Regions from separate parts of the Homo sapiens genome. Here all the other regions are linked to region 5. Evidence: fine-mapped expression QTL. A gene starts in region 5. Each other region holds a variant in brackets. All regions are shown on one strand. Distances are from middle to middle.

Region 1 (5,000 bases), 590 kb after region 5:
TGTCCTCTGAGAACAATTCCTGAGCCTCAGTCATGATGAGCTGTTTTCCCTCTTTCCACCAAACCCTGTCTCCTTCCTGTTGCCCAGGTCCCACCAACTGTGGACCTGGGAGCCATGGTGCCAGGGTCCCATCCAGCTCTACCACTTCCTAGCTGCTGATCTCAGCAATTTTCTTAACCTCTATACCTCAGTTTCTTTATCGGTAAAATAGACACGACAGGAGGAATAAGTGACACAATCCAGTGCATGGCACGTGGGGAGCCCTTGCTAGATGGTGGTTGCTATGGTTACGGTGTGTGTGGAGCTGTCCCCAGCACTTTGTTCCCTGCCTTGTCACCAACCTCATTTCTCCCATCCTTGCATCCCTGACTTGGTAGAACACATCAGAAATCTCAGCCCCTTCCTATCCAACACTGGAAAGGATGCCTGGATCAGACCTCAGTCCTCACAGGGGTGGCAGAACAAAGACAGTTGTGATCTGGATGAGGGTTCAAGGTCACTCAAAGAGTGCAGGCAAAAGGACATTTTCAGGATGCTCCATTCAAAGGCTTCAGTTCAGATGGGGTCATCCTGCGAGTAATTAGCAAGGCCTCTGGCGATGGGGCTTAGCTCCTGGGCCAGTGTCGGAGACTAAAGAGGCTGTGGCCATGGGATTGATTTCTGCAGGATGGCTGCCCTTCCCCAAACATGCCCGGCCACCCCCACCCTGAGCCTCCTGCCCGCACACTGCTGAAATTCCACCATCGCAGACACATTACTTTAACTCGCCACTCCTATTCCCCATTATTGAAGTACACGTTCCACTTCGGGAGGCGGCACAGTGACTCTCATGCTCCTCGATTCTTTGTGCCAAAGTGTGCGTGGCTTTGACGGATTTGCCTAGCCAGCTGAATGACTCCAGCGGGGCTGTTTCACACTTCTGCACATTTGCACATGCTGAGCCCTCGGCTCGAAGCACCTCTCCACTGCCCGGCCCCCGGCAACCATTCTACACCATCCTTTGAAACCTGATTCCTAGGTCACCACCATTCTAAAGCCTTCTGTGAGCTCCAGACAGAAGTCACCTCTCCTCCGCCTGAATCTTTCCTGTACCTAATTCAAACCTTCTTATCCCAAAGTGCTGAACTGATTTGTTTCCAATTCCATCTGGCTATGCCAGTCTCAGTCTCCAAGAAGAGAGGTAGTGGTAGTGTTTTCTCCAGTTATTCCCCGGTCCCTACCCCATCACACACACACACACACACACACACACACACACACACACACACACACACACCCCAGCCCACTCGGCCTTCCAAAGGGCCGGGCACATGCTAGGTATTCATGATTCTGGAGGAAAGGAATGAAGAACTCTTCCAAAGGACGAGCCTGATGCCCCTCACTCGCCAGACCTCCCGGCATCCGGAGCTTCCGCCTACACACAGGACAAGACTCCTTGGTTCCGCTGAGGAAGTTCCTACGTTTAGGATCTGAGATGATGGCCAGGCTCCCAAGGGGGATAGAGACCTGCCTGGCACTGACAGCTGGTGAGGGGGAGGGCGGAGGACCCTGCCAGGCCTTCGCAGCTGGGCCAGGGGCTATTTATACCCAGCTCCTGGCCCGGCCCTTCCCTTCCCTAGGACCCTGCCACCCTCCTCCTGAAGCCGGCTCATCCTCCACTCCGACCACCCACTGCCCAGCTGGGCCGAGGACACACACGGGCAGCCAGGCGGATGGGCTGCGGGTGCCCTGCACAACAGGCTGCTTGTGGAAACTTTGGTGTTGACCCCTTGGAGTGAAATATCCCTCCACAAATAGGCAAGACCTAAACCTTGTGCATGGCCTTATCTAACTCCCATCCCCACCCCAGTTCTGTGCCTCTACCCTGATAACGCCTGCTGTGGCCAGAGGGCTGCAGGAGGCCTGCATGGTGAGCACAAGGCAGAGAGGACCTTTTTTTTTCTTTTTTTGAGACAGAATCTTGCTCTGTTGCCCGGGCTGGAGTACAAAGCGTGATCTTGGCTCACTGCAACCTCTGCCTCCCAAGTTCAAGTGATTCTCCTGCCTCGGCCTCTCAAGTAGCTGGGATAAGAGGCATGCGTCACCATGCCCAGCTAATTTTTGTATTTTCAGTAGAGACAGGGTTTCGCAATATTGGCCAGGCTGGTCTGGAACTCCTGACCAAGTGATCCACCTACCTCTGCCTCCCAAAGTGCTGGGATTACAGGCGTAAGCCACCATGCCTGGCCATAGAGAACATTTTTAGAGAACATTTTTAATCAGTGAATTCAGGTCAGCCTGGATGCTGCATTGACTTACGCACCTAACATATGGTGAGACACCTAAAGGCACCCTGTACAGTGCGTCCTGCCTGATCTGACACTGGGGTTGTTGGCCTCAGATGCTGCCGTCCACCCAGTGACGGCCAATCCCCTGCTGATGGGGGTCTGACTGTGCTGCCAGGGACACCCACTGTGCTGCCAGCACCCACTCCCCTGAGTGATCCATTAGGGTAGGCAGTCCTGCACCCAACCAGGTGGCCTCCCAAATGGAATCACACACAATCTCCCTCCTCTCCCCTA[C/T]ATACAGAACATATGAAAAGAGGGCCCTGTCCCTCAAAAAGTTAAACATAGAATCACCCTATAATCCAGCAATGCCACACCTGGTATACGCCCAAAAGAATTGAAAATGGGGACTCTGCCCAGGTGCGGTGGCTCACGCTTGTAATCCCAGCACTTTGGGAGGCCGAGGCGGGAGGATCACGAGGTCAGGAGATCGAGACCACGGTGAAACCCCGTCTCTACTAAAAATACAAAAAATTAGCCGGGCGTGGTGGCAGGCGCCTGTAGCCCCAGCTACTCAGAGAGGCTGAGGCAGGAGAATGGCATGAACCTGGGAGGCAGAGCTTGCAGTGAGCTGAGATGGCGCCACTGCGCTCCAGCCTGGGTGACAGAGCAAGACTCTGTTTCAAAAAAAAAGGAAAGAAAATGGGGACTCCAACAGACACCTGTACACCAGTGTTCACGGCAGTGCTACTCACAGCAGCCAAAAGGTAGAGACAACCCAAGAGTCCTCAGCAGATGAATGGATAAACAACAGGTGGCCCATACATACAGTGGGACCCTATTCAGCCAGAAAAAGGAAGGAAGCGGGTGTGGTGGCGGTAATGCCAGCATTTTGGGAGGCTGAGGCGGGTGGATCACCTCAGGTCAGGAGTTCGAGACCAGCCTGGCCAACATGGTGAAACCCCATCTCTACTAAAATACAAAAATTAGCCGGGCCTGGTGGTGCGTGCCTGTAGTCCCAGCTACTCAGGAGGCTGAGACAGGAGTATTGCTTGAACCTGAGAGGCAGAGGTTACAGTGAGCCAGTTGCGCCACTGCACTCCAGCTTGGGCGACAGAGCAAGACTCTGTCCCCCCAACCAAAAAAAAAAAAAGGAATGAAATTCTGATGCTTCTGATGCAAGCTACAACGTAGAGGAAACTTGAAAACAAGCTAAGCGACAGAAGCCAGACACGGAAGAACAAATACTGTATGATTTCACTTACATGAGGTTCTAGGTAAAGACACGCCAGCTTAGGCAACAGAGTAAGACTCTGTCTCAAAAAAAAAAAAAGGAATGAAATTCTGATGCAAGCTACAACATAGAAGAAACTTGAAAACAAGCTAAGCGACAGCAACCAGACACATAAGGACAAACACTGTATGATTCCACTTACATGAGGTGTCTAGGTAAATTCACAGGGACAGAAAGTAGAACAGAGGTTGCCAGGGGTTCTGGAAGGGAGGGAGTGGGAAGTTACTGCTTAATAAGTACAGAGTTTGGGATGATGAAAACAGACGGTGGTGATGGTCACACAGCATTGGAATGTACTTAATGCCACTGAATAGTACACTTTAAAATGGTTAAATAGCAAAATTAAAAAAATCAAAGGAGGGATGGTGCTTGCATCCCCAGCCTTCAACTTCGCATCTAGAGCCCCTGTGCAGGACGAAATTCCAGAGCCCCGGGTCTAGTCTAATTCCCTCTTCCTCTATACGGGAAGATTGAGGCCCAGAGAGGTTTGTCATTTTCCGGGGTCACACAGCTGGCTGCCCAGGAGGTGGGAGGAGAACCCAGGGCTCACAGTTCTTTTACCCACCAGGCTTTTAACCTGGGGGTGATGAATGCACATTCTCAGAAGCTTCTCTGGGGCTGGGCACAAAAAGGACCCACCTGGCTTCACATGGGTGGAGCTGCAGAAGGTGGACCCAGGGGCTGCGGCCCAGGGAAAGGCTCCCCTCCTCCCTTCGGTCTCAGGGTGCTCTCCAGGGCCAAGTCTCCCCAAGTCATGCCTTCTTTGCAGAAATAGGCCCTTTGCCCTTACCTTTCTCCATGCGGAAATCTAACCATCTGTGCCAGCCTCAAAGGGAAGGCATCTTAAGACTCTGATCTGAAGATCTAGTGTCTCTTAAAATGACTGACATGGCTGCTGAGAGGGAGAGGAGGAGGGAAGGTGAGGAGAAGGAGTCAGAAATCACCTCTCCTGTGGTCATTTTTCTCTCCCTGTGGTGGGGGCCACGGTGCTCCTGTCAACCCCACAACAGGCCAGGGCCAGGTGCTCCACCTGCTGGCTCCTGGGCAGTACTGGACAGAGGCCCAACTTGTTCCTGGGCCCAGAAGGGCTCCACCCTCCACGGAAACTTCTAGAAGGGAAAGGAAAGGTTTGAGGAAAGAGCAGGAAGTGAGGAACCAAGCGTTGGCTTTGGAACTCAGGCCTCTACCTTTCCACTTAGGTCAAGAAGCCGTTCAGGATTGGCAGATGTCAGGACAGGAAGCCTAGCCAGTTCAGGGGCATGTGTGCACACCGTGGGGCTGGGCCTGGTGGGCTCTGATGCACCCAACTACACCCATAGTGACGAGGCAATCACTGCTGTGGATGAGGGAGGCCACAGGCCTGGACTGGAGCCGCTCACCTGGCTGCTTGGCAGGGAGCTTGTGACAAAACCAGAGAAACCTAGCTCAGGATTCCAGCTGCC
Region 2 (5,088 bases), 560 kb after region 5:
CTGTCAGTGAATTATCCAAGATCACATCACCAGGTTATTGATGGAGAAGGGATGGTGTTGCACCTCAAGTCAGTAAGCGACTGCACATATACCAAACGGTGTCTGGGAGACTGCTTTAAGGGACAAGTTAATTAAGTTGTGCAGTCTAGACTTGGGATCTGTATATTTGTCCCTGGCTGGGCTCCTAGAAATTTCATGCAAACTACTGTAGGGTTGAAGCATCCAGAATCACATAGAAAACTGAGCCCCAGGGTGCTGCCTGGGCAAAGACAGATGAAACTTCTTTGGGACTTTCTCATATCTCCTGGCAACTTACCTTTCTTCATTTTAGAACTCCACCCTTCCATGTGCCCATGCTGTGTCTTCTTGTCCTTATCTGACATACTAGGTAGCTGATAAATACCTCCCTATCAAGCCCTATGAGTTCAGAGACCTTGGCTCTTACTATTGAGTCCACAGCCCCTGGAACAGAGCCAACACATATGAAGGTGCTCAGTAAACTTTTATTATTATTATTATTATTTTGAGACAGGGTCTCGCTCTGTCTCCCAGGCCGGAATGCAGTGCCATGATCATGGCTTACTGCAGTTTTGACCTCGCAGGCTCAGGCGTTCCTCCCGTCTCAGCCTCCCAAGTAGCTGGGACTACCAGCGTGTGCTACCACACTCAACTAATTTTTGTATTTTTTGTAGAAACATGGTTTCACTATGTTGCCCAGGCTGGTCTTGAACTCCCGAGCTCAAGTAATCCGTCTGCCTCAGCCTCCCAGAGTGCTGGGATTACAGGCATGCACCACTATGCCTGGCCCTCGGTAACTTTTTTTCTTTTTTTTTCTTTTGAGACGGAGTCTCGCTCTGTTGCCCAGGCTTGAGTAGTGGCATGATCTCGGCTCACTGCAGCTTCCACCTCCCGGGTTCAAGGGATTCTCCTGCCTCGGCCTCCTGAGTAGCTGGGATTACAGGCGCCCACCCACCATGCCTGGCTAATTTTTTGTATTTTTAGTAGAGATGGGGTTTCACCATGTTGGCCAAGCCGGTCTCGATCTACTGACCTCAGGTGATCTGCCCGCCTCGGCCTCCCAAAATGTTGGGATTACAGGTGTGAGCCACTGCGCCCGGCCAGTAAACTTCTGTTGGATGAATAACTGTAAATTCATTTTACAGTTAGGTAAATGGACAGAGTGGCTGTATTCTAGGCATCATGTGTTACTAGGTGTTACTAGGTCCATCTAGGTGGACAGAGTGGCTGTATTCTAGGCATCATGTGTTACTTACTGATGGTCCTGCATTCTGCTAGTGTGGGCAGTGAGCGGCAGAGGTGAAGTTTCTGTTTCACAGTTACATCTGAAATAGGCTCTTGGACCAATAACAAATTGGAAACGTGAAGTGAATGCTTTTTAATCTTTTCTGGTAAATTTATCTGAAAATAAAATTTTTTTGACTTTCAGAAATCTAATTTAATCTACTGAGCTTTCAGATGGACTATTTTTAAGTCAATTAATTTATTTTCCATTATGAGCCATAAATTAAAGTCACAGACTAACCACTTTGTTTAGACTTATTCTTGGTAAAAGTGCAAATACAGGTGTATTGGCTCTTTCCTTGAAAAAAAGATAAATCTGTCAGATTGTCAGCTTCTTTTTTTTTAAGTTTCAGTATAATTTTTTTTCAATAATTGCATAGAAGAAACTATGTGGATTTTTTCCCCAACCCTCATCCCTTTCCCTTCCTTTGATGCCTGCAGGTCAGTGATCAAGTTAATGCTTCTTATGCATGTGGGATAGAGAGTGAGAGTGGGGCACTCAGGCCTGATCTTCAGCGACTGACATTTCATAGGCCTCTGAGTTTGAACCCCTTCATGTCAAATGGATTTCGTGCAGCTGAGTGAATTCTCTTTAGATCTGCCTTAGAGAGGCTGAACCTAAGTGAAGAGGCATGTAGTTTTGCAGAATATAAGTCGTGGTACCTCTCTGTTCACTACATGCTATTCTGTTAAAACTTGCACAGAGCTGAGGATCTGCTCTGACTGGATGTCACCTGAGGGAATAAAGTCATTTATCTAGATTACTTTTTTCCTCCCTTTCTCCTGACTTTTAATTCCATAGCTACAGGCAAGTCAGTAAGTTGTTGCTCACACATATTAAATATATTTAATGGGCAAAGAACTGCAAGTACCAACTACAACTGCGCTCCAGCCAGTTCTTTTTTTTTTTTTTTTTTTAAGAACTTGACAATTGATTCATATGTAATTCTATTCCCAAAAAGGAAAAATGTTTCTTTTGTTAGCTATTCACACTTTTTCTTAGTCCTTTGTAGTCTGACCTCTTACCTTTGATACATTTGAAACTTCTGTTCAGTGTTTTTCTGGGATAGAAGAAATCTTAAAAAAAAAAGAAAGAAAAGAAAAAAAAATCCGTGGTTGGAGTGGGAGTCCAATTGCACATCTCCCCACAGCTGCACTGAGCATTTGAAAGTTATTCCTGGAGGGCAGGGAGTTCCCTCTTGGGAAACAGACTCCTGCTCTGAAACATATTTTAAAAGTTAGGTGTGTTTCTTACAATAAAAATTCATCTTCAGGAACTAAAGATGTTTTTAACGATTGTTTTCTAGATAACTTCATATCTCCTGTGGGCCTACGAGAATAAAGTACATTTAACGAGTTAGTATAAATATGAATAGAAAATGAAAACCAGTCGAGATAGCTAATAATAACGACCTGAACGAAGCACCTGAAACAAAGTTGCGCCATCTTTTCTTAGACTCATGACACATTCGCAGTCACAGGAGACCCAGATTCATCTGGAGATGATTTCAGGAATCAGCAGTACTCTTCATTTTTTTAGTTTTAGCACAACTTTGTTACTACAAAGAAGAAACTATATGACGGATACTGAGGCTAAGAAAAGCTACATGGTTGGTTATGTAGAGTTAATAAGCTATTTTTTAGTTGTTGAATTAACCTCAACTTGGTATCTTCTACTTTGCTGTGACTT[T/C]AGTAGCCTTTTACACCTTCAACAGGTGAATTGGTTGTCATTTGAACTCTGATGAATGGCCCTGTCCAGTCTCACAGCGATGCCTCACAGGCATCAGCACAGGGCACGCCTGGCCCAAGTGCCTATGATGGCCAGCGGGCTTGGGTCTTTTGGAACCCAGTGTACATAGTTCTGGAAAACCCCATTCACTTCCTCCAAATGATGTGATCTGCTTTGTTTTGTGTGAGAATGCTGGTCAAGGAGCAGGTAACACATTCAGTGACCTAGCAGAGCATTGATGAAGTGTGAAACCGAACACTGCCTTCTCATGAAGCAAGTGCAGAGTTGTTAGAAGGTACCATTAACCCATCTTCATTTCTTCTGATGTATTTAGATGGATCCTGAATACCGTGTGAGAAAATTCTTGGCCCTCTTAAGAGAAGAAGGAGCGTAAGTACATACAACATTTAATGACCATCAACCAAACTTACCACCCTGTTAAATCCCTGTGCCTATTCTAAGAGTTGCTTTCCTAGATAAGTTTGTTTCCATTTATTTGAATTCTTCGCTGTGTTGTAGGTCCGAGAGACCAAGCAAGGAAGTTGGTTGTACTGTTGGTTTGCTCTCCCTGTCCTGCTTCGCAAAACTTCCTTGTCACAATGCAGGAAAAACTTAATGGTACATATTTATTGGAACCTGCTTTTACATGCATGGAGCTGTGACCATTTTCTTTTGTGAAGTGCTCATCTAATAGCAAATGCATAGTGGGAAATGTAGGATAACCATTAAGAAGCTTTTAGTGATTTTTTTTTTTTTTTTTTTGATGAATAGTTTTTTACGGACCCTCATCTGTTTTTTTGTGTTTTGGTATTTCTTTTGCAGTAGCCCCCTTGATTTTGATTGAAAATGAACTATTTGAAACACACAGTGACCAAGGGAAGTGACCAAGGTGAAGATGGCCTAGGATCTTCACTGTCTTACTCAAGATACTGGACTAAGTGGAACGTTCTCTACCTTCAACATGTGCTCGCTCTGCATGATTAGTGCAATAAAACTCCCTTCCTTATGCATACTGAGATAGCTTAGTGTCTCGTGGAAGGTGTCAATTTGGTTTAGAATGCTGCGCTTACCTTCCCATGCAGGCTAAAGTGATTCCTTCTTGCTCAGTCCCTCTGGGTGGGAACCATCCAGTACTTGTGGACACTACACGTTTCAACCTCTCTACTAGCACCATCACCCTTGAAAACTCTCAGTCAGTGTCATGAATGTTGCATGACAACAGTTGGCCGATTAGAAGGCAGACTTTCTACATGCAAATCTGGCTTAGTAAATCGAGGTGTGGGCCAGAGATCCTCTGACAGCTGTCCTGAGCTAACACTAAAAGTCACTGGGTATTTGGTTAAAGGTCTCCCACAAGACTGGTATTCTCTTTGCCTGAAGAAACAAGGCATTGAATCTCTAAAATGCTGTTCTCAATCATTGTCAGAGATGTTTTCAAGTTGCAGTCAGAAGATCTTTCTTAATAGAAAGTCAGATGACTACCGTGTTGGTTGTGACTTCCCCTTAAGTATAACTAATTTGCTCTGTGGTAAGAGATATGCTCATTATTACCACTTAGAAGATGTTGTTAAAAACATGTGAAAGATAGGTATGGAAAAAGCATACACCCCCAAACAGAAAGGAGTTATTAAAGTAATTTACAAACCTCTCAGCACTAATTAGTGTCCAACTCCAAGTGGGTCAATTCCTTAGTATAATATTAAGGCTTACTAGTATCACTGCTTTTTCCTTAGCTTAATGACTTACTTAGAATTTATCCTTTATTTTAAATGATCTGTACTATCTAGTGTCTAAAACACTATTCTCCAGAAAAATCAATCATTTTCTAGCCCTCTCCCTCAGTCCTTTATTGTCCATTCCAATACATTGAACACATTTCCTTTACCCTCCACACACTTCTTCCAAAAGGAAGCACCCGTTGAGTCCTTTTGAGGGTGATTTGTCTTACAACTGACTGACTTAGCAGGAATTTAATTAGGTCATATTTGGTGATGAGACTTATGGAGTGTGCCTCTCTCTCCCAACTGCTGCTTAAAATGCAAGGACAAGCAATTAGA
Region 3 (5,087 bases), 160 kb before region 5:
CCAGCCTAGGCTACATAGTGAGACACTATCTCCACAAAAAACCCACGAAAACTAGCTGGGTATGGTGGCACATGCCTACAGTCCCAGCTACTGGTAAGGCTGTGGTGGGAGGATCTCTTGAGGCCAGGAAGGAGATCCAGGCTGCAGTGAGCCAAGATTGCACCACTGCACTCCAGTCTGGACAATCGAGCAAGATCCCATCTCAAACAATAAAAAAAAAAAGCGTGTAACCTCCTCAGAAGAAAGATGTTATAATCTCAGGCAGCAGGCAAGAACCAATCCAGGCTCTAAGCAAATTATGTATCTCACTGACCCCACCAAACCTCAGAAAAATTTAACAGTGAGAAGCAAAATCTCCTTTAAAGAGCAACTTAGAACAGATAGAAAATATCATACAGCTGACTTCACTAGAGAGAAAGTGCATCAACTGCTTTCACTCAACAAAAAGAAAAAAGAGATGATCAATGCAGATCCCCTCTCCTCCTGGCAGCCCTTACCCTCAGTGAAAAGCCACCACCATTCTCTCTCTGGTGGCCATCAGATCAACCTGCGGCGTTCCCACAAGACAGAATGGAGATTTTCCAAGGTATAGAGCAAGTCAGAGTACCCCAAAGAACGGCGGCAGAGAGCCAGCTCCGAAACTGCCAACACTACCATGCATACACAGTTCAGTAAGTCAAGAAAGGCCTGGTACACAGCATTCTGTAACTTTTTTTTTTATTTTTTTCAATTTTTCCTTCTTTTTTTTTTTTAAGCACTAGTCTGTGCTTTGCGAACAGAATCAAGACATTAACAAAGATCAGCTTCTCTGAAGAAAAGCATTTCTATAGAACAAAGACAGCTACATGTTTCGCTGCCATTACACAGCTCCAAAGCAGGAAAAGAAAATATTTACAAAATACAAGGTTTTTTTTTTCCATTTTTTGTTTTTGTTTTTTTTTTCAATGCTAAAAGGGTTATTCAGAATTTTCAACCTTATAAATAGAAGAAGCACTTTATGCATAGGGATATGGTGCATTATTGTATTTTTTTTTAAAGAAACAATGACAAACCCTTTAACTTGCAAACAGAAAAAAAAATCACTAATGTTGAAAATTGTGAAAAAACCCCAACCATTAAGCAGTTGTCTACTATTTTTATACGATTACAAAATGGCCAAAAAAAAAGAGTCTTCTCCCCCCTCCCCCTTTTTGGTGATGTGATCATACAGGAGACAGGCACAAGGTTAACAGAGAAGGGTGAAGGGGGAACAATGGGAACCACAGCTAGGACCAGACAATGTTCCACAGGCAAGGGGAGCGTGAAAGACCAAGAGTGGAACTAACACCGACAGGGATCTGGATGTGAAGGAAACATGGCAAAGTGAATCAGAGGGAAAAAAAAAAAAAATCACACAGGGAGATGGCTGCTCACTTCCCACAACCCCCAGTTTGCAGGGGAGTGGGAATAGAGGTTAAGTAGTCCTAACCCTACCTTCAAAGATCAGGATAGGTGGTAAAAATATTCCAAGTGGAAGGACGGGTTGTGGGTGTGTACATGGCATGGGAGAGCAGACAGGGAAGGGTACCAAGGGGCATGAGGAGGGGAACCTGAGCAGCCACAGCCAGGTTACTGCAGTGAAAGAGTCAAAACAGAGAAGACCAAATGCAGATGAAACAAAAAATCAGTCTCTTAAGTTCTGGGTGAGAAAGGAAAGGTGTTCTGCCAGCTGAGCACTCGGGGAGAGCAGCTGGCAGTTATGGCAGAGAGGCTCTGGTGGGGATGTTCCAGCACGAAAAACCAAGGGGACCCAGCCAGGAGGGCCACAGCAGAGCCAAGCCACAGATGGGAGGGGAGGGGGTAAGAGTCCAGAGCACCCTGCCCCATTCCACCCTAGCTCAAGAAGGCCATGCTAAACTGTAGCCCGCCAGGCTGTTCTGCCCTGCCCACAGGTGTGAGGGAGGGGGTGGTCATCTAAGATCAGTAAGTCCAGTGATTCAACAGTGCAGAGGATGTGCCAGGACCAGGCCAGCAGGGTCTCATCCTGAACTTCTGTTTGCCAACGGGAGGAAGTGCTCAGGTGTGTGACAAGAAAACATGGAAACAAAAACAAAACAAAAATTAAAACAAGAAAAAAAAATACCAAAGTAGGATCTAAATTCCTTAAGTTCACTAAAAACTGTGAAAATTTCCGGCATATGATGTTTGAATATCAAACGCAGAGATTTCTGAAGCTTTAATGCCAATAGTTAGTGAGTCTGTTTAGATGGCTGTCTCCCGCTCATCTGTGAGTCGGGCGCTGAGCTGTGGCTGCTGCCACCAGATGCCGACTCTTGAGGGGGACAATGGGAGGCGAGGTGGGCGCTGCCTCTGTCTCCCGGCCAGTCTTGCTGCCTGAGGTGCGTCGAGTGCAGCGGGCTGCTCGCTCCTGTGCATCCAGCTGGTCCTCACACTCCGCCTGGGGACTGTGCGCCAGGGGGAAGGTCCGCCGCTCCCAGGGCTGGACAGACTGTAGGCAGACAAGTTGCTCTTTGAGGACCCAGTCCCAGCCAGCCTGCTTCCTGCTCCAAGGCCCTGCCACAAACCTTGTGGCCTGGAGCCTAGGACCAGTCTATCTAGTGTTCCTGCGACAGTCTGGGAACACCCCTCCTAGGGTATACCCAGACAACTGTATT[G/A]ATCATTTAGCAGTGATCAATACAGTTCCACTGAACGTTGAGGAGATCAATTTAAGTGCAGCCCTTTGTCCCTTCAAAAGGGGGAGGGGATGGCTAGGTCCCTCTTCAGCAGATGCTGCCCCTTCCTGGTTCCATCCCCCAACCATGCCAACCCCACCCAAAGGCTGCGTCCCTTACCTGTTCATCCAGCCCCAGCTCTGGTGTGGAACAACGGGTATCCTCACTGGCTAAGTGTCGCGGAGTGTCCCGAGCCACAGGGGTGAGGGGTGCTGAGTGCAGTTCCGGGCTAATGGGGCTCCTAGGGGACTGACCATGGGAGTATTCTGACAAAGAGTGGCTACTGCTGACATCAGGGGAGGCAGGCTGGGGGGTGGAGGGGTTGGCACTGCCCAGCTGGGGGGTTGTCCGGCCGTCTGATGACCTGTAGGACCTGCACACCAAGGAATGCAAATCTGAGTGCCTGGGAAATGTTTACTTATGGGGGTAGAGGGCATGAAAAAAGCATCCCCACTGGAGGAGTTGAGGCAAACAAACACCAACAGATTTTCCTTAGGATCCAGCAACTCCCATTTCTTCCCACTATTCTCTGGAGGGGTAGGTATACAACATTTACCATCCCAAGAAAAAAGCATGGCTGAACAATGCCAGGTGAGTCCATAGCAAAGTGCCTAGTGAATTCAGGAGGTTAGGGAGATTCGTGTAGACTTTGAAAACTGTAGTCAAAGAAAAAAAAGTAAAAGTAAGAGCTCCCAAAACTTTCTACTTGAGAATCCCGAGGGTTTCTGCCACTGTTAACAATAAATGGAGACAGGGTAGTGATGGACGTTAAGGGGGGGCAGTTTCTTCAAGTGGCATCACAAAGCCACTGTCCAAAGGAAGGTTAACTTGTAGCGAGGCCTTCCAAGCTCCCCGGGTTGAATCACCATGACCCCCCAACTGTCTTCCAAATGCCACAGATCATGGGAATTCAGAATTACATAGTGACTTCTCAGCAAGGATCTAGCACTTGGCTCCTTATATCTCCACTAGTTCCATGTATCTCCACTAGTTCCAACAAACACCAAGGAAATTCTGAGCTATTTGCCACTGCCAGTAGATGAGTATGATGAGCAACCAAGAGGCAGTAGCAATTCCATGGACTCAAGTAGGGCCCAAACTCCCTGTCCACCCTCTCTCCACAGGCCCTGGGGACCCAAGCCTGCCCCATCACCTGCTGCCCCGCCGCTGGGGTGGCACACTCGTGGTCCACAGCCACCGTGCCCTCTCCATCTCCTCACATTTGGCATGCAGGGCGGCGAAGGCTGCGTCGGATAGGTCCTCAATCTGCAATAGAGCAGCTTCATCGATCCCCTCTTTTCTCCAGGAGTTAAGAACCAGTCCCACCCCATTCTAGGTTCTTCCCGGTCACGACAGGAATACAAGGAGCTTGCACTTCACACCCACAAGTCTTCAGGCCATTTAGGGTGTGTGCACTCATATGTATGTGTGCATGTGTACACACGTGTTCTTCTAACAGAAGAACCAGGCCATTACCTCTTCATTCTCCTCATCAGGACTCCCCTTCAGAGACTGAAGATCAACCTCCCGCCAGCTGCAAAACCAAGAACAGACAATCATGAGATGGCAAGCAGGCTAAAACTGGGGGCAGGGTCAAAGTGTCCATGCAAGGATGAGAATCCTGCACCTGTGGGTGACACTGCTCTCTGCCGGGTAGGCTCTGCCCTATCACAGCTCAGTCTCCCTACCCTGTCAAGGCCTGTGAAATTGGCCACCTACTCAAATGCCCAAGAAGGCCAGAAATGAGAGAAGCGGCCTAGGGTAAGGCTGAGGCTGAGAGACTGTGACAAACACAAGAAAAGAAACCTGTTTAAAGAGGACCACCACTGTTCAGGACCAGCTGATTGCTCCCATATGGAAATGCATACCCAGGGTTGCCTAATCTTCTGTTTGGCAACAAAAGCTGGAAACAAAGATTTTTATGTGAAATCCTGCTTTGATGTTGACAACAAATTCAGTATTTTAAAACATACTGTATGTGTTGACAAAACCGGTCTCTAGACCAGTAAGTGAATGGCCTACCAGGCTGTGACTGCTGGTTCGTTTGGTGTATTCCTATAATGGAATGAGAGAGAACTATATACAGAAATAATTTCGTTCTTATCAGATAAGAATTTCTCTTAATGAGAAGACAGAACCAAAGACTAGGGCCCAACTCTTGGTCAGAAGAGAAGAGGGAAAAAGGGCAATAGCAGGAAGAATGGGGAGAGGAGCCAACTATTCTGAGCTTCTACCTGGGCGTAAGGATTTCCTTGTATTGCAGTTTCTCTACGCGAGTTGTTGCAGCAACAGACATTGGGATGACAATGTTGTTAATATCAAATGAGCTCTCTCCCCTTCTCCTCCTTACTGGCTGCTGCTGTAAGATAAAAATTA
Region 4 (5,088 bases), 140 kb before region 5:
GTGATCCGTCCACCTCAGCCTCCCAAAGTGCTGGGATTACAGGCGTGACCCACCACGCCTGGCCCAGACAAAACATTTTTAAAGATATACTAAGCGTATTTTGGACCAGATTACTGTGGCTAGAGGCAACTGAGCCCAGATCCCTCCTAGCTACTTGAAGAGTTAGAAGGAAATCTCATATTAAGTTGCAACCTTTTAGTGGCACCTTCTGGTTTGGTGGATCTGTTACAGTCTTTTTGCAAAATTCTAAGAGAAGACTTGGTTGACGAAAGTTGTACCTTGAAAGTATCTGAGTTGTAACTGCACCTTGGCTGATTTTCTTTCACCTAGAAGTCTCTCAAGTTTCTTTCATTAGACTTTCTAGTCTGTGGTCTTTCTTACCATCTGGAAATGCTAGAACAGGATGAACACAAGAGTCCAACTGGGAAAGACGTTCCAACAGAGGGGCTTCATAGTGAATTTCGGGAGGCATGGTGTTGATGCTGCCTGAACCACACAGTGCGCAGGAGGGATTCACATCACAGCCAGGGCGGATTGTGCTGTTCCGGTGAACCTGTGAAAAAAGCCAAACAAAACTGACAATTCAGCATCTGATAAAAAGCCAGCTACCCATTTGTTATCCCCATTTGTTATTGAGAAGTTAGCTCCCCATTTGTTATTGCGAAGACCTTTCTAGATACTTGTGTGACACTACTAAAAGGATGTTTGATTAGTTTGTTAAAAGATTTCCATTTGTCTAACACACTGACCTTCAAAGTGGGTAAGGAAACTTGCTTCCTTTTCATTGATGAAATCTAACTACTTGAAGCTCTAAGTGCTTACCTAGGTATCAAACTTCTGACAGTTTAAAAAGATACTAAAACTGTGCTTTCTGAGAACACTTTATAAACTCTGCATGCTTTCACGACCTTGATGGTCCGCTAAGACGAACAGTTGGTTCTTGATTCCCAGGTGGGACATTACTTGCTTTCTTCAGCAAATTTATCCACCTAGGAGCCTTCAATTACCAACCACACCTCTTCTCTTCTTTTCACACCTCTTCTTCAAAAGACTTTCAGGTGGTCTCAAGCCAGGTGGCAAGCTTCCCTGAAGCTTGTAACTTAAAAGTAACTTATTAACTACTCTTTAACCTGGCCTAAAATCCACTGTTACAAAGCTCATACCTAAGTAATAAAATAACATTTTGTACAGCAAATGCTCACTTTCATAGTCTTCATGTTAGATTAATTCCAAAGGGTAGAAATTATTTCCACTGAACTTCCTTTGTGCACATGTGGGCAGAATAATTGATAACCTCTCCAGGTAAGTCCAAAGTTAAATATGAACTAATTTAAGTCTTCAAAAGATTGAATTCTGTATAAAAACTGAACATCTACAATTTTATACTTTGAGCAAATTTCAGGTCATGCTGAATGCAGGATCCCTACATTCTAGTGTTAGGATGAACAAGTCTGGCATTTGCCAAAGCCTAACTCATAAAGTCACCTGGACACACAGCCCCAGAAAAAGAAACTTGCATGTTGAATGGCACTATAAGAAGGCATCCTAGGTGCAAGCTCAGTAGTAGAACAAAGACAAAAAGCATCAAAACTCTACTAGCAAAAACTCTAACATTTACTAGAGCTCCATTTATTTTCAGCAGAGACATCTCGAAAGCCTTTTATGGATTTGTGTAAGAGAAAGATATACATAAGAACAATGTGGTCTTTATCAACATTCCCCCGACATTCTATTGTAACCACATAGAGAGGTGGCACGCAAATAAAGTCTTTTAAAGGTTAGACTGGGCAAATCACACAGAACTAGAAGCCACTGAAAGGGAGTGATACCAACTAGGCATGCTACTTTTGTGTAGACAATATTAACTGGTATTGTTTTGGGAAAAAAAAAATCCCTGTATCTATGTAATCAGAGCTGGCTTTCTGGAGAGGATGACATTTTGAGGTAAAGAGAAATGAGTAGGTAGAGATGAAAATGAGATCACACAGTGGGTGAGTGGGAGGATTTAGGAAAATTGGTTAGGATCCAAAAATTACACTGAAACTTTCAATATTCAAAAGAGATTATCTCACTCCAGTAGGTATAGCAAATAAAAAATAAAAAGAGAGAGACTAGAAACCAACCCATGACATCAACTAGCTCTCCATATGGGACATTTAACAACACTACATTTTATGGCTAGAGTGTATCACTTAAGTCAAAGTCAATATTGGGAGGCCAAGGCGGGTGGATCACTTGAGGTCAGGAGTTTGAGACTAGCCTGGCCAACATGGTGAAACCCCGACTCTACTGAAAATAGAAACGTCAGCTGGGTGTGGTGGTGGGAGCCTGTAATCTCAGCTACTCGGGAGGCTGAGGCAGGAGAATCGCTTGAATCTGGGAGGCAGAGGTTGCAGTGAGCTGAGATCACACCACTGCACTCCAGCCTGGGCGACAGAATGAGACTAAGTCCAAAGACAAGCAAACAAACAAAAAAACAAAACAACAACAATAAAAAAATTCAATAGATGTGGCTAGGCGTGGTGGCTCACAACTGTAATCCCAAAACTTTGAGGTGGGAGAGAGGATTGCTTGAAGCCAGGAGTCTGAGACTAGCCTGGGCAACACAGTAAGACTCCATCTCTTAAAATAAAATTTAAAAT[T/TAAA]AAAAAAAAAAAAAAAAAAAATTTAGCCCAGCATGGTATTGCATGCCTTTAGTCCCAGCTACTCAGGAGGCTGAGGGAGAAGAATCGCTTAAGCCCAGGAGTTCAGGTTATAGTGAGCCATGATTGCACCACTGCACTGCAGCCTGGGAAAAAGAGTAAGATCCTGTCTCCAAAAAAAAAAAAAAAAAAAAAAAAAAAAAAAAAAAAAAAAAGGCTGCGCATGGTGGCTCACGCCTGTAATCCCAGTACTTTGGGAGGCCAAGGTGGGTGGATAACCTGAGGTCAGGAGTTCGAGACCAGCCTGGCCAACATGGTGAAACCCCGTCTCTACTAAAAATACAAAAAACTGGGCATGGTGGTGGGCACCTGTAATCCCAGCTACTGGAGAGGCTGGTAAGAGAATCACTTGAACCTGGGAGGCAGAGGTTGCAGTGAGCTGAGATTGCACCACTGCACTCCAGCCTGGGGAACAAGAGCAAAACTCCGTCTCCAAAAAAATTTAAAAATTTAAAAAAATAAAATAAAGGGTAGAAATTCTACTTATAACTTGACAAAAGGGTAATGTGCACACATGTAACTTAAACAGTAATCTCACTTTTAAATTAAAAACTGTAAAGTACTAATAGAACCCGAGGAGTATATAAAAATATATTTAATACTTATTTTTTTTTTGAGACAAGAGTCTTGCTCTGTCACCCAGGCTGGAGTGCAGTGGCGCAAGTCTGCCTTCCAGGTTCACACCATTCTCCTGCCTCAGCCTCTCAAGTAGCTGGGACTACAGGCGCCCACCACCACACCCAGCTAATATTTTTGTATTTTTTTAGTAGAGACAGGGTTTCACCATTGTTAGCCAGGATGGTCTTGATCTCCTGACCTCGTGATCTGCCCGCCTCGGCCTCCCAAATGCTGGGATTATAGGCATGAGCCACCGCACCCGGCCAAAGATATATTTAATACTTATTAAAGGATACATTTTGGAAAATTTTTGAAAGAAAACTTGAATTCATACCCATGTTGCACAAATCCACACCAAGAATCTATCCTGCAGACAAACTTAAGTGTACACACGCACACGCTCTTCCACTGAAACAAGATGCCAAATCATCTGCATGAATTCATTTAAGTTAAAAAACAACAAGAACACATACAATATTGTGTTTTACAATAAGAAAACAAATTTTTAAAAATATCACAACAGATGGTGTGCATGTGTAGCCCTAGCTATTTGGGAGGCTGAGGTGGCTCACTTGAGCCCAGGAGTGAGGAGCTATAGTGATCATGTCCACTGCACTCCAGGCCTGGGAGACAGAGTGAGTCAGTCTCTTAAAAGAAAAAAAAAACAAGGATCTCCTGGGCTCAAGAGATTCTTCTGCCTTAGCCTACCAAGTAGCTGGGATTGCAGGCATGCACCACCACGCCCAGCTAATCTTTTATATTTTTAGTAGAGACGGGGTTTCACCACGTTGGCCAGGCTGGTCTCAAACTCCTGACCTCAGATGATCCACCCGTATCAGCTTCCCAAAGTGCTGGGATTACAGGCGTGAGCCATCGCGACCGGTCCCAGTCATGAAATCCTATTGGCAGAATCCAACCACTTCATACCACCTCAACTACACTCAATCTAGTCCAAGTCACTATCTTTTCTCAAATGGGTTTCTTCAAGCCTCCTAACTGATCCTCCTCCTACTGGTTCTTACTTCCAAATCAATCAACACAGTAATCAGTGTAAATCTTGTTTTAAAATCTCAATCACATCATACCAACCTCATAATCTTCCAAATGACTTCTCATCTCACGAGGAATAGAAACCAAACTTCTTGCATGGTTCCCACAAGGTCCTATAGTATTTGTCGCCTCTATCCCCTCTCTCTGACTTCACCTCATTTTTTTGTTACTCTCCTAGCTGACACTACCAGTTACTCTGATTTCCTTGCTATATTTCTCCAAGATAGCAGGCAACCTTCCAGATCACAGGCCTCTGCACTTGGCTCTTCAACCACTAATTCCATGGTCATTCTCTCACATCGTGTCTTTTTCTTTAAATGTCAGTATTCAAAGTAACTTTTTTTTTTTTTTTGAGATGGAGTCTCGCTGTCGCCCAGGCTGGAGTGCAGTGGTGGGATCTCAGCTCACTGCAAGCTCCGCCTCCTAGCTTCATGCCATTCTCCTATCTCAGCCTCCCGAGTAGCTGGGACTATAGGCGCCCGCCACAACACCTGACTAATGTTTGTATTTTTTGTAGAGACAGGGTTTCACGGTGTTAGCCAGGATGGTCTCGATCTCCTGACCTCGTGATCCGCCTGCCTCAGCTTCCCAAAGTGCTGGGATTACAGACGTGAGCCACCGTGTCCGGCCCAAAGTAAGTTTTATTTAGAAATACAAGTGAAAGGCCAGGCGCGGTGGCTCACGCCTGTATTCCCAGCACTTTGGGAAGCCAAGGCAGGTG
Region 5 (5,088 bases):
TTGTAAATAGTGGTCCTTTAACTGACCCAAAAAGCAGAGAAAACAGAAATTACAGACCATCCTGACAAATGGAAAACATATTCTAACGTACTAGTTTCCATACTTGAAAGGACTTTCAAAATGAAGTTCAGTAGCAATCTATAACTATATCATGATTATGCAAGGCAAAGATTATGTAATTTTATCGTTTATTTTAAAATGTTCTCCGACTCTAAAACTAAAACAAGTAAAACGTTTTGATCTCTCCAAAGCGAAAAGGAAAGGTTCCTCTGAGCTGCAATTTAAAAATATAAACACACACCCCAAAACAAACAAAAAAACACAATGATTGCTAGCCACGTGACAAAGGAGATGGCAACACCAGGATTGTGAATGGAGGGGAGGGAGGCGAGGCTGGAGGAAGAGAGATTTCTCGGAACTTTGGGGACCGCGGCAGTCGGTCTGCCGACCCTAGGAGCACTAAACTCCAGCCCCTACGAGTTGTGCTTCTAACACCCTCAAGTACAGTTTTATTAATAAGTCACAGAAAATGCTCCAGTGACCTCCAGGATAAAGGGGGGTGGGGGGGACCGAGGAAAAGGAAAGAGAGCAATTTAAAGTGGCGCCATCATGTCACCCCTTCTCCCCTAAAGCAATCAGTAAGCAATAGTTAAGTAGCACGTTTCTCTATAAATCCACATTGGGATTCCAACATTGGAAAACGAGGATTTTTAAGTAAGACACGGGAGTAGCGCTGTTTATCGTATGGAAAACAAACTATTTGCTAAGAATCAAAAGACCGTCAGCCGGAAAACAGGCCCCCAAAAAGGCAGTTAAGATTCCAACTCACTTAAAAGCAAATAAATCCCTCTTCCTCTTTAGTTTAAAAAAAAAAAAAGTCCGCCTGAGGGAGACTACATCTGAAAACGTAAGTGACCTGAATTTACAGGCAACAAAAATAATAAATGAAACAATCAGAGTTGTGATACAAACCGTGCAACGCGCCAAGATGTGTGTTTCGAGCAGAGAAAGGCCTTTTGCAGTCAAGAGAAGTTCAAGGCGAGAGCCAGAGTTTGTTTGGGGGGTTCTTTTACGGGAATAAATCATGTTCTTCAGGCCGCCTTTTTAAATAGAACGCCAAAGGAAAAGCTGGCGAACGAGGCGGCAGCTCCTGGGGAAGGGCCCCCGCACACCCCCGCCCTTGGGGCGACTCCCAGCCCGGACCCGCAGCAGGGAAGCCCGGAGAGGCCATTTAAAGTTCCGGGGGATTTTTCTACCCTGCCCTGCCTTTCTAGTTACAACTAACAAAGAGAGAGAGAAATGGGAGCCACAGGGAGAGCGAGGAGAAGGAGAAAGGGCAGCAGGAGGAGGAGGAGAGGAGCAGCAGCAGCACCTACCACGTGATGGAGGAGCGTAGCCCGGGCGGATTCAGCCCCACAAAATGGGCGCAGTTTGCAAACAGCCCCCCGGCCTGGGCGCCGAGGGCCAGCGGCGGGCGGGGGCGCGCGACGGCGGCTCCGGCCCGGGCCCGCCGCTCTCCTCCCCCCGACGCCCGGAGCCGCCCTGACTTTCCGGGCGGGGGGGCGAGGCAGAGGGGGAGGGGAAGGCGGCGGCGGGGAGCGGCTGCTTTTTCTTCTCTTTCGGGCCCTTTCCCGGCCTTGCTCCGCACCGACGGGGCCCGAGCACGGCTGGAGACCGCAGCCCGGCCGGGAGGGCGGGCGGGCGGGGGCAGAGAGTGAAACCGCCCCCCCGCCCCGCACAAACAAGCACCGCCGTCTGCAGCCCGAACCCGCACCCAGGCCGCCACCCCCGGCCGCCTCTTTCCAGCCGGGGAGCGCGCTTCAGCCGCCCCCCGCGCCGCCGCGGCGAGACGAGTCGGCTTCGCTACGGTGCTCGGTTCTCCCGCCGGCTCGGCGAGCGGTGGCGGCGGTGGCGGCGGCACTGGGAAAATGGCGGCCGAGCTCCTTTTCCCTCCCCCCCTTTAATCTGAAGCGGAGGGAGAATGGAGCGAGCGAGCAAGCGGGCGAGCGCCGGGGACACGGGGAGGAGGGACAGCAGCGCCTCCGCCGGCTGCGGCTGCGGCGGCGAAGGGCCGCTCCACCCCGGCGCGCCGCCAGGGGGCGCCCGCCGCGCCGCCCCCGCGGGCCGCCAGGAGGCGCGGCCGCCGCCGCCTCAGTCATGGCTCCTCGCCGTGGCCGATGTTTTTGTACCTCCATCTGCGGAGGCCGCGGCGCCCGGCCCCAGCTGCCCCGGACGTGCGGCGACGGCACGCAGCACTGCGGCAGGGGGAAGCCAGCCCTCGCTGCGGCCGAGGTGAGTCTAACCTGAGGCACTGACGCCGTCACATGCCCTCCGTGCTGGGGCCGGCGGTGCGGCTCGCCAGTTGAGGGGCAGGGCGGGCCGGCGCCGCGGAGCGAGAGGACGTGAGCGAGGAACTGTTTGCACTGTGTAGTAAAGAGGGTAAGGCCGTCGGCACCACACTATTCCAAGGCTAACCCTGCAGAAAGCTCCCTGACCAGTGAAGCGGCTTCCGCCGCCCGCCCTTTGTCCCTAGCAGCCAGCCTCCGTATACTGCAGCACGGCTGGGCACTAGCCCCAGCACCGCGCTCCGCAGCCACCAGAGTTGGGCGGGGTGGGGAGGGTGCACGTAGTCACTGCGCAGGCCCCAGCCAGGGCCCGCGCCGGGCCAGCCCGGGAAGGGACAGCCGGGAGCCAGAGGGGAAGTGATGGCCCCGCCGGCGCCGGGCCCGCTGGGAACTGTAGTTTTCGTGAAGAAACACGCGTCTTGTTTTGGGTGTCATGGCTTGGCAGATCCGCCAAAACAGGCAAATGGCATTACACAATGAGTATTTATGCTTCCTGCCGCCACCAAAAGGAAGTTCACTGCCATGCTAAAAGTTTAACAAAGAACTCCATAAAGAAACACAAGTCTCACAACAAAAAGCCAACTTCCCACCTCGTTACCAGAGTTGGTTTAAAGTGGTGGCACCTTATCATTTCTCATGACCAGTTTATCAGTACAGAACTTTATATTGTCCCCAAAATAGGACCTTTAAAATAATGGAACCTTTCCTAGACTTAAAGAATTCATAAACATAATGTAATACAAAGTGTCACACAAAGTGTAATTCTACCACCCTTTAAAGTTGCCAAAAGATGAGTGGAGTATCTTGAGATTTAAAAGACTAATCTAGGATTCATCAAAACTGGCTTAAATGACTGAAGAAAAAATCGTTCAAATCATTAAATCATCAAATTCGGCAGATAAGAAGGGTATGTATGCTCTACTACCAAAAAGGAAGACGCAAAATGCTTCACACTTTTTTGTGGCTTACCAGAACCAATATCCGGCATTATACGTCACTTCTGCTTATCAAAAAACACCCTCACAGTCGTTACAGAACGGTTTTAGTCTTCCCACAAAGTTACACTAACTCACCTGCCCCTGCAACATCTGCACCTAGGTTTCTGCGAATTTCCATTTGTACTCCTAAAATCACACTCTCAAGCATAGTCATAGTTCTCAAATACCAAAGGCAGGCAGTTTGGAGTCATAGGGTCAAATTACACAAAGAATAAACTAATATTTGTATACACATCCAAAAGAGGTCTTTAGTCTTGGATTTTTAATTTACAACCCTGGGGAAAAACTTTGACTTTTTTATTGTACACACATACACACATAAATAGTAATTCCACAAAATACAGTAGAAGGGTATTGGACCAACAGATGGCGAACTAGAGCCCCAATCTGAGGCTCCTGAAATCTAAATTAGCAGAATGAAAAATACCAAATAAGGCAAAGCCCTTTGCAGCGTATACTTAAATATTAAATTCAGACACACCATAACAAAATAATCTTACTGCTGCTCCAAATTTTTAAGACTGAACTGTCAGATTTAATTAGGCAACCAAATAAGCAAGATTATATGAAATATATTTTTCTAATGGATTAGGAGAAAACTGGAAAATGCTCATTTTTAAAACCATGTATTTGGGGGAACTATAAATTCCAGTTTCCCCTTTCTCTCATTGCTTAGTGCAAGAGTCAAGAGTTCACAGGGTTTATGGCACTTAAATCAGTCAACCTGTTGTATATTCTTATCTAAAATCAGACATCTTTCTTATTAGGCATCCACTTGTACTTTTATTTTTTTGACAGGGTCCTGCTCGGTTGCCCAGGCTAGAGTGCAGTGGTGCAATCAAACTCACTGCAGCCTCCCAGGCTCAGGCGATCCTACCTCAGCCTCTTGAGTAGCTGGCACTACAGGCATATGCCACCATGCCCAGCTGTTATTTTTTTCACTCCTTTTTGTTTTGGTAGATACAGAGTCTCCCTATGTTGCCCAGGCTGGTCTCGAACTCCTGGACTCGAGTGCTGGCATTACAGGCATGAGCCACCACACAAAAATCTTATGAAGAGAAACAAATTTTCTTAAATTTCCCCCCAAAAAATAGTGGATGTCCAAAAGGCTGATTGAAAACACCTACATACAAAATAAAACAAACAAACAAAAAAAGATTTAAAGAAAAAGGCCTGGTGCAGCAGCTCACTCCTGTAATCCCAGCACTTTGGGAGGGTGAGGTGGGAGGATCACTTGAGCTCCGGAGTTAGAGACCAGCCTGGGCAACAGAGTGAGACCCTATCTCTACAAACAAAATTTTAAATTAGCCAAGTGTGGTAGCATGTGCTTACAGTCCCAGCTACTCCAGAAGCTGAGGGGATTGCTTGAGCCTGGGAGGTCAAGGCTGCAGTGAGTCATGATCATGCCATTGTAGTCCAACCTGGGCAACAGAGCGAGACCATCTCAAAATGAAAAGTGATAAAAAAATAAAAACACCAACATATTTCAAATCACTCTTGGAATAGTCATGTTGACTCTCCAATATCCACTCTATTCTGATTAGTTTTAACCCATTCTCTTTGCCAATGATTGGTTAGGAATGGCCATGAGATGTGAGTAGAAGCCCCCTGGACAGCCTCCAAAAGAGAACTGTGAGAAAAGGTTCTTCAATCCTAAAAATGATGGAGGAAAAAACAGTCCCTCTTCCTCAGACAGTGACACCTCAAACTGCTACAGTCACCTTTGCAGCAAGCCTGAAGATGCC
Region 6 (5,088 bases), 110 kb before region 5:
AAAATATTTTCTTCCCTAAATCAAAAGCATAAGATATACCTTACAAACTTTATCACATCCAAATAAAAACTATTTGCAAAAGACAGTTATCTTGTACACCACTGCCTTCTCAAAACGTTGTATTCAACAGATATTCCCTACTTAAGGGCCCAAACTGTCTTCCTGCTTCCTGTACAAAGCATGCCAAAAATCATTTTATTATTCAAATTTTCCCATAACCGGTTCCTAAGAACTTTTTTAAAGATCAATTTCCAACTACTTTCCCCAAATATTTGTTAGTGTTATACCAATCTCATCATCTCCTAGACAAATGTTTCAATGAATGTGAAGCTGTTGCTGCTGCTGGAGGTAAGGGTTATTAGTCAGTAGAAGGTTAAAAAAAACTGAATTAAAGGTTAACACATGAGCTGTTCATCTTTATTTATACTCATTTTTATATTTTATCAGTCCAAATTGCCGTTCGTCCTTCCAAAGAGATTTTCAACAAGTCCCACCTCCTTCCAAGAAAATGTCCCGGGTTAATGAGTTCCTACTTGCTTTATCCACACTGCCAGACCTCCTAAAGCACGGTGATTGTATCTTACTTTCTGTGTATTTAAATCTCATTTCCAGAGCATTCATAATCTTATGCCACATTATTTATTTCACTTATTATTGCCTCAGTTTCTTGTTTGTTGAGACAGGGTCAAGCTCTGTCACCTGTGCTGGAGTGCAGTGGTGTGGTCACGAATCACTGTAACCTCCCCCTCCCGGGCTCAAGTGATCCTCCCACCTCAACCCCATAAATAGCTGGGATAACAGGTGCATGCCACCACATCCAGCTAATTTTTGTATTTTTTTGGTAGAGATGGGGTTTCACCAAGTTGCTCAGGCTGGTCTCGAACTCTTGGACTCAAGTAATGCACTTGCCTCAAACTCCCAAAGTGCTGGGATAACAGGTGCAAGCCACCACACCCAGCTAATTGTTCTATTTTTTGGTAGAGATGGACTTTCACCATGTTGCCAAGGCTCGTCTCAAACTCCTAGACTCAAGCAATCCACCTGCCTCGGCCTCTCAAAGTGCTGGGATTACATGTGCAAGCCGCTGCACCCAGCCTTTAATTGTTAACTAATGTTAGTTTATTGAAGATGTGGACAAAATACAAATATATTTAAATGACCCATGTCCCTTAGCAGAGTCATACACCAAGAAAATAAATGCATAGCAAATATTTGTTGAGTTGTATAATTTTTTTCCTAACAGGAAAATATTAACTTTATAATAATTATAGCCAGAAGATAAATAAATCTAACAATTAGATATAAAATTACTCCTTCAATTTTTCTTTTTCAGTTATATGAAAGTAAGGACGCAGTCAGTATTTTCCAAAGGGAAGAATTTTTCCTTAAACTACAGAATAATTTCTAAATACAACCCTCAGATAGATTATGAAGACATCTCCTAAGAGAGTATAATAAAACTTGGTAGGGACCATCTATTCATCGACATAATTTTATAGACCCACAGAGGATGTAGGTCAAAGCTTATGTCTCTACAGGCCAATACATGGCAGAACTGGGGCAAAAGTCTGCATCTAACTAATATTTCATTCCTCTTTTGTTCAGTTAATTAAATCATTTATCCGCTCATCAGCATTTGTTAGGTACTAAGGATACAAGAAAAAATGAGAGACCTATCCCTCTCCCCTAACCCATCCTTCAAAGTGCTTATTACGTTCTAATACTGCGGCAAAGAAAAACAATGTAAATAGGTAAATGTTATGTACTACATTAGAAGGTATTAAATGCTAGAGAGAACAAAATATAGGATAGTGAGGGGATTAAGAAGTGGAAATGGTGGGGTTGGTCGTGACGGCTCATGCCTGTAATTCCAGCACTTTGGGAAGCCAATGGAGGAGGACTGCTTGAGGCCAGGAGTTCAGGACCAGCCTGGGCGACGTGGCAAAACCCTGTCTCCACAAAAACAATAATAATAAAAATTAGCCTGGTGTAATATCACACCTGTAGTTCCAGATATTCAGGAGGATCACTTAAGCCCAGGAGAGAGAGAGAGATACAAGTGGGAGGGGGTACTACAGGCGCATACCACCACGCCTGGCTAGTTTTTTGTATTTTTAGTAGAGAAGGGGTTTCACCATGTTGCCAAGGCTGGTTGCAAACTCTTGGGGCCAAGAGATCTACCCGCCCTGGCCTCCCAAAGTGCCGGGTTGCAGGCATGAGCCACTGTGCCCCTGCTTGAATGTTTATTTGAAGACAGAATCAACCAGCTATGCCAATGTGCTTACAAGATAGGAGGGAAAAGAGTCAGAGACACTGCCAAGGTTTCTAGCTTCCACAACCAGAAGAATGGAACTCTTCTTCATTTGTTCAGAGGACATTTGAATACACATTAGTTTTAATTAAACCTATTTTTGAAAATATGTGCTCAAGTGTTACACTGAAGCAACCAACAATCATCCATACACTGTCCATTGCCCCCAAGATATGTAAGTTCACTATGGCATTCAAAACCAAACACTGGATCCTCTAATTTAATACTGTACCTCACACCAAAAAGGATGAAAACAGCTAAAAAGAGGCTGAGCAAATAAAAAGCATCCAAGTAGGTAAGAGTCATTCATGCAGGTAGCATCTATTGAGTGGCTACCACGTGCAAGGTAGTGTGAAAACACAGTAATAAAATAAAAACAGATTCTACCATAAGGAGCTTATGTTCATCTAGCCTTGAACAGACAAAGAGACAAAGTATTATGACAGTACTATAACAGAAGTTGAGAGAAGGTGATGTCAGAGCAGAAAAGAGCCTAACTGAAGAGAC[T/C]GATGAAAGTGAGGCTTTACAGAGGAGGTCTACATAATTACTTAACATTCCCCAAAATATATTTAATATATTTTGAGCTATACTTATTCATTAACTATACACTTAATGACTTTGCCCTTTTCTGTATACAATGTTTCATATGCCACAATAACACTTATTTCGGATAAAGTTTACTCATGTTTAATAACCATGAAAAGAAAGGTTAGCATTAGCTGAGAAAACTTCATAATGTTCTACTCCACACCTGTCATGCTACCCCAACATGGGCTTCCCTAACATTCCAGGTTTAAACTGGGTCAGTGTTGAATAGCTGTGCCATTAGCCTGGTGGCAATAAACTTAGGGCTGCTGTACTATGAAATAGCAACCGGTAGAAGCCGAAGAAAAAGGTCAAGAGTCTCCTTTTCCTTCGCCATGTCCCGAGTCAGAGCCAGGATCATGCTTAGGCTGCACAGGCCTAGAAAACTCCAAGAGTGAAGCAAGCTTCTGCTTTACACAAGGACCAAAGGAACTGGAATGGGTCACAGTTACATGCAGCCTTAATACCTCCTAAGTGACTCCTCTGTGGATGAACCCTCTCTCAACTGTATTTGCAATACAGCTAACAGGCAATTTCACATACTTCCTTACATCACTCTATCAGGTCAATCTTCCCTATGCATCTCAAGACAAACCAGTGACCCCACTGCAGACCAGTTCCACAAGAATCACCCTGGGCTACCTGGAAAAGATAAGTTGTCTAAAGTGCTTTAAAAAACCCTATTAAGATGAGAACTTCAACAGCTTTATGAAAATTTTGAAGAGAAAGGTGTTATAAGCTTCTGCAGTTCCCATTCAACTCCTTCCCTATTCAAAAGTTTCAATGCTCTTCCACCTCCCATCCTCAATAACATTTCCATCCTCAGCTACAGCTGTGTAATCTCAAAGAGTAGTCAGAAGAGGAGATTTTAAAAAACAACGTAAGAGTCAAGCCAGTGCTTCTGGGAGGCCAAGGCAAGGAGGATCACTTGAGGTCAAGAGTTTGAGACCAGCCTGGACAACACAGCGAGACCCCATCCTTTAAAATAAAAAAAACCCTTTAACAATTAGCTAAGCATGGTGGGACTTGCCTATGGTCCCAGCTACTTGTACTTGCAAGGCTAAGGTAGGAGGATAGCTTGAGCCCAGGAGTTTCAGGTTACAAAGAACTATGATCTGGCCATTGCACCTCAGCCTGGGCAACAGAGCAAGACCCTGCCTCTTAAAAACTGCTTAGTCCCTATTCTTTCCCCTCATTTACCAGGTGTGAAATTTCAACAAACATGTTTCAGTGAAATGATGAAAAGGACACAACAGCAAAGTATGTTAGAAAAAAAATGCTTTGGAATCAGATAAAAAGTCCTGAGTTTAAATTTAGCTCTGCCTTTTACAAGCCTCTGAAGATTTATTCTGATCATTAAACGAACATACATGAGTAAACCTTTAATTAGTATACACTCAAGGTACGTATATTGTTTTCGTTTCTCCTTCTAAAGCATGGAAGAGTTTCTTTTTAAAAAACAAGCTGACAAACTATGAAAATTAAAAGAGTACAACAGCATGCAGAAGTAGTACAGAGGAGTTCCTAGAAGTTATATTCTTTCTCCAGAGAGCAATATTATTCCCAAAAGGGACTCTACTCACTTCACAGCTTGGAAGGTAATACCTACCTTCTGACAGAACAGAAACTGGTGTCTGGATCCTAGAATCACCTAGCAGTAGTCACAAATACTTTTTTTTTTTTTGGTAATACGCCACTTAAATAAAATTAATGTTAATAAGCAACAAAGTAAATCCTTAAAAAGAAAAGCCCCACCATCCCTCCAATCTCCCACCCGAAGACAAATTATAACTCAACAGCCTATCACCAAGATTCAGCCTATCACCTAGGTTCATCTCAAAAAAAAAAAAAAGACCTGTGCAACCCAGGAAGTGCTGGGAAATCTTGGTGCAGCATGGAAAATATGAACACCAACCCACTTAACCAAAACACATAGGAAAAACTTTCTTCCATTTCAGTAACTAAAAAAAAAACCCAAGCACTTAAAGTGATTACTAACTTGAGCAATAGCTCTGCACTCACTTGGATGTGTAACCATGAACAAACTACTTGACTGCTCTGATCTTCCATTGTTTATCTTGAAAATCGTGAATGAGAGTAAAATGCTTAGCACAGTGCCTGACATATCACAAGTGCTCAAAAACTTCTATTAATTATAGTGTTACATAAAGACTAAATGCATGTGAATATAT

The links. PIP is the estimated chance that this variant, and not a neighbour inherited with it, causes the effect.
Region 1: its variant is fine-mapped to the expression of KANSL1 in whole blood (INTERVAL, PIP above 0.99).
Region 2: its variant is fine-mapped to the expression of KANSL1 in whole blood (INTERVAL, PIP 0.91).
Region 3: its variant is fine-mapped to the expression of KANSL1 in tibial nerve (GTEx, PIP above 0.99). The same link has a PIP of 0.9 or more in whole blood.
Region 4: its variant is fine-mapped to the expression of KANSL1 in monocytes (Quach 2016, PIP 0.95).
Region 6: its variant is fine-mapped to the expression of KANSL1 in whole blood (TOPMed, PIP above 0.99).

The regions. Positions count from the first base shown.
Region 1 is chr17:46,777,829-46,782,828 of GRCh38, forward strand. All of the region lies in intron 1 of WNT3 (Wnt family member 3), which reads right to left. It also overlaps a transcript of LRRC37A2 not described here. Among named protein-coding and RNA genes, the nearest start is that of WNT3, 38 kb to the right of the region's middle. RefSeq lists an enhancer at 4,154-4,840. The variant C/T (reference allele first, on the strand shown) is at 2,562.
Region 2 is chr17:46,751,949-46,757,036 of GRCh38, forward strand. It overlaps NSF (N-ethylmaleimide sensitive factor, vesicle fusing ATPase), which reads left to right. Exons shown (of 21, transcript NM_006178.4): 20 at 3,366-3,421; 21 at 3,854-5,088. The coding sequence ends at 3,875. It also overlaps a transcript of LRRC37A2 not described here. Among named protein-coding and RNA genes, the nearest start is that of WNT3, 64 kb to the right of the region's middle. The variant T/C (reference allele first, on the strand shown) is at 2,993.
Region 3 is chr17:46,029,216-46,034,302 of GRCh38, forward strand. KANSL1 (KAT8 regulatory NSL complex subunit 1) reads right to left here. Exons shown (of 15, transcript NM_015443.4): 11 at 4,946-5,070; 12 at 4,188-4,245; 13 at 3,865-3,977; 14 at 2,832-3,084; 15 at 701-2,488. The coding sequence ends at 2,261. Among named protein-coding and RNA genes, the nearest start is that of STH, 33 kb to the left of the region's middle. The variant G/A (reference allele first, on the strand shown) is at 2,655.
Region 4 is chr17:46,050,152-46,055,239 of GRCh38, forward strand. It overlaps KANSL1 (KAT8 regulatory NSL complex subunit 1), which reads right to left. Exons shown (of 15, transcript NM_015443.4): 7 at 382-553. Among named protein-coding and RNA genes, the nearest start is that of STH, 53 kb to the left of the region's middle. The variant T/TAAA (reference allele first, on the strand shown) is at 2,643.
Region 5 is chr17:46,191,447-46,196,534 of GRCh38, forward strand. It overlaps KANSL1 (KAT8 regulatory NSL complex subunit 1), which reads right to left and starts at 1,983. Exons shown (of 15, transcript NM_015443.4): 1 at 1,377-1,983. KANSL1-AS1 (KANSL1 antisense RNA 1) reads left to right here and starts at 2,127. Exons shown (of 2, transcript NR_034172.1): 1 at 2,127-2,292; 2 at 4,922-5,088.
Region 6 is chr17:46,084,832-46,089,919 of GRCh38, forward strand. All of the region lies in intron 3 of KANSL1 (KAT8 regulatory NSL complex subunit 1), which reads right to left. Among named protein-coding and RNA genes, the nearest start is that of STH, 88 kb to the left of the region's middle. The variant T/C (reference allele first, on the strand shown) is at 2,819.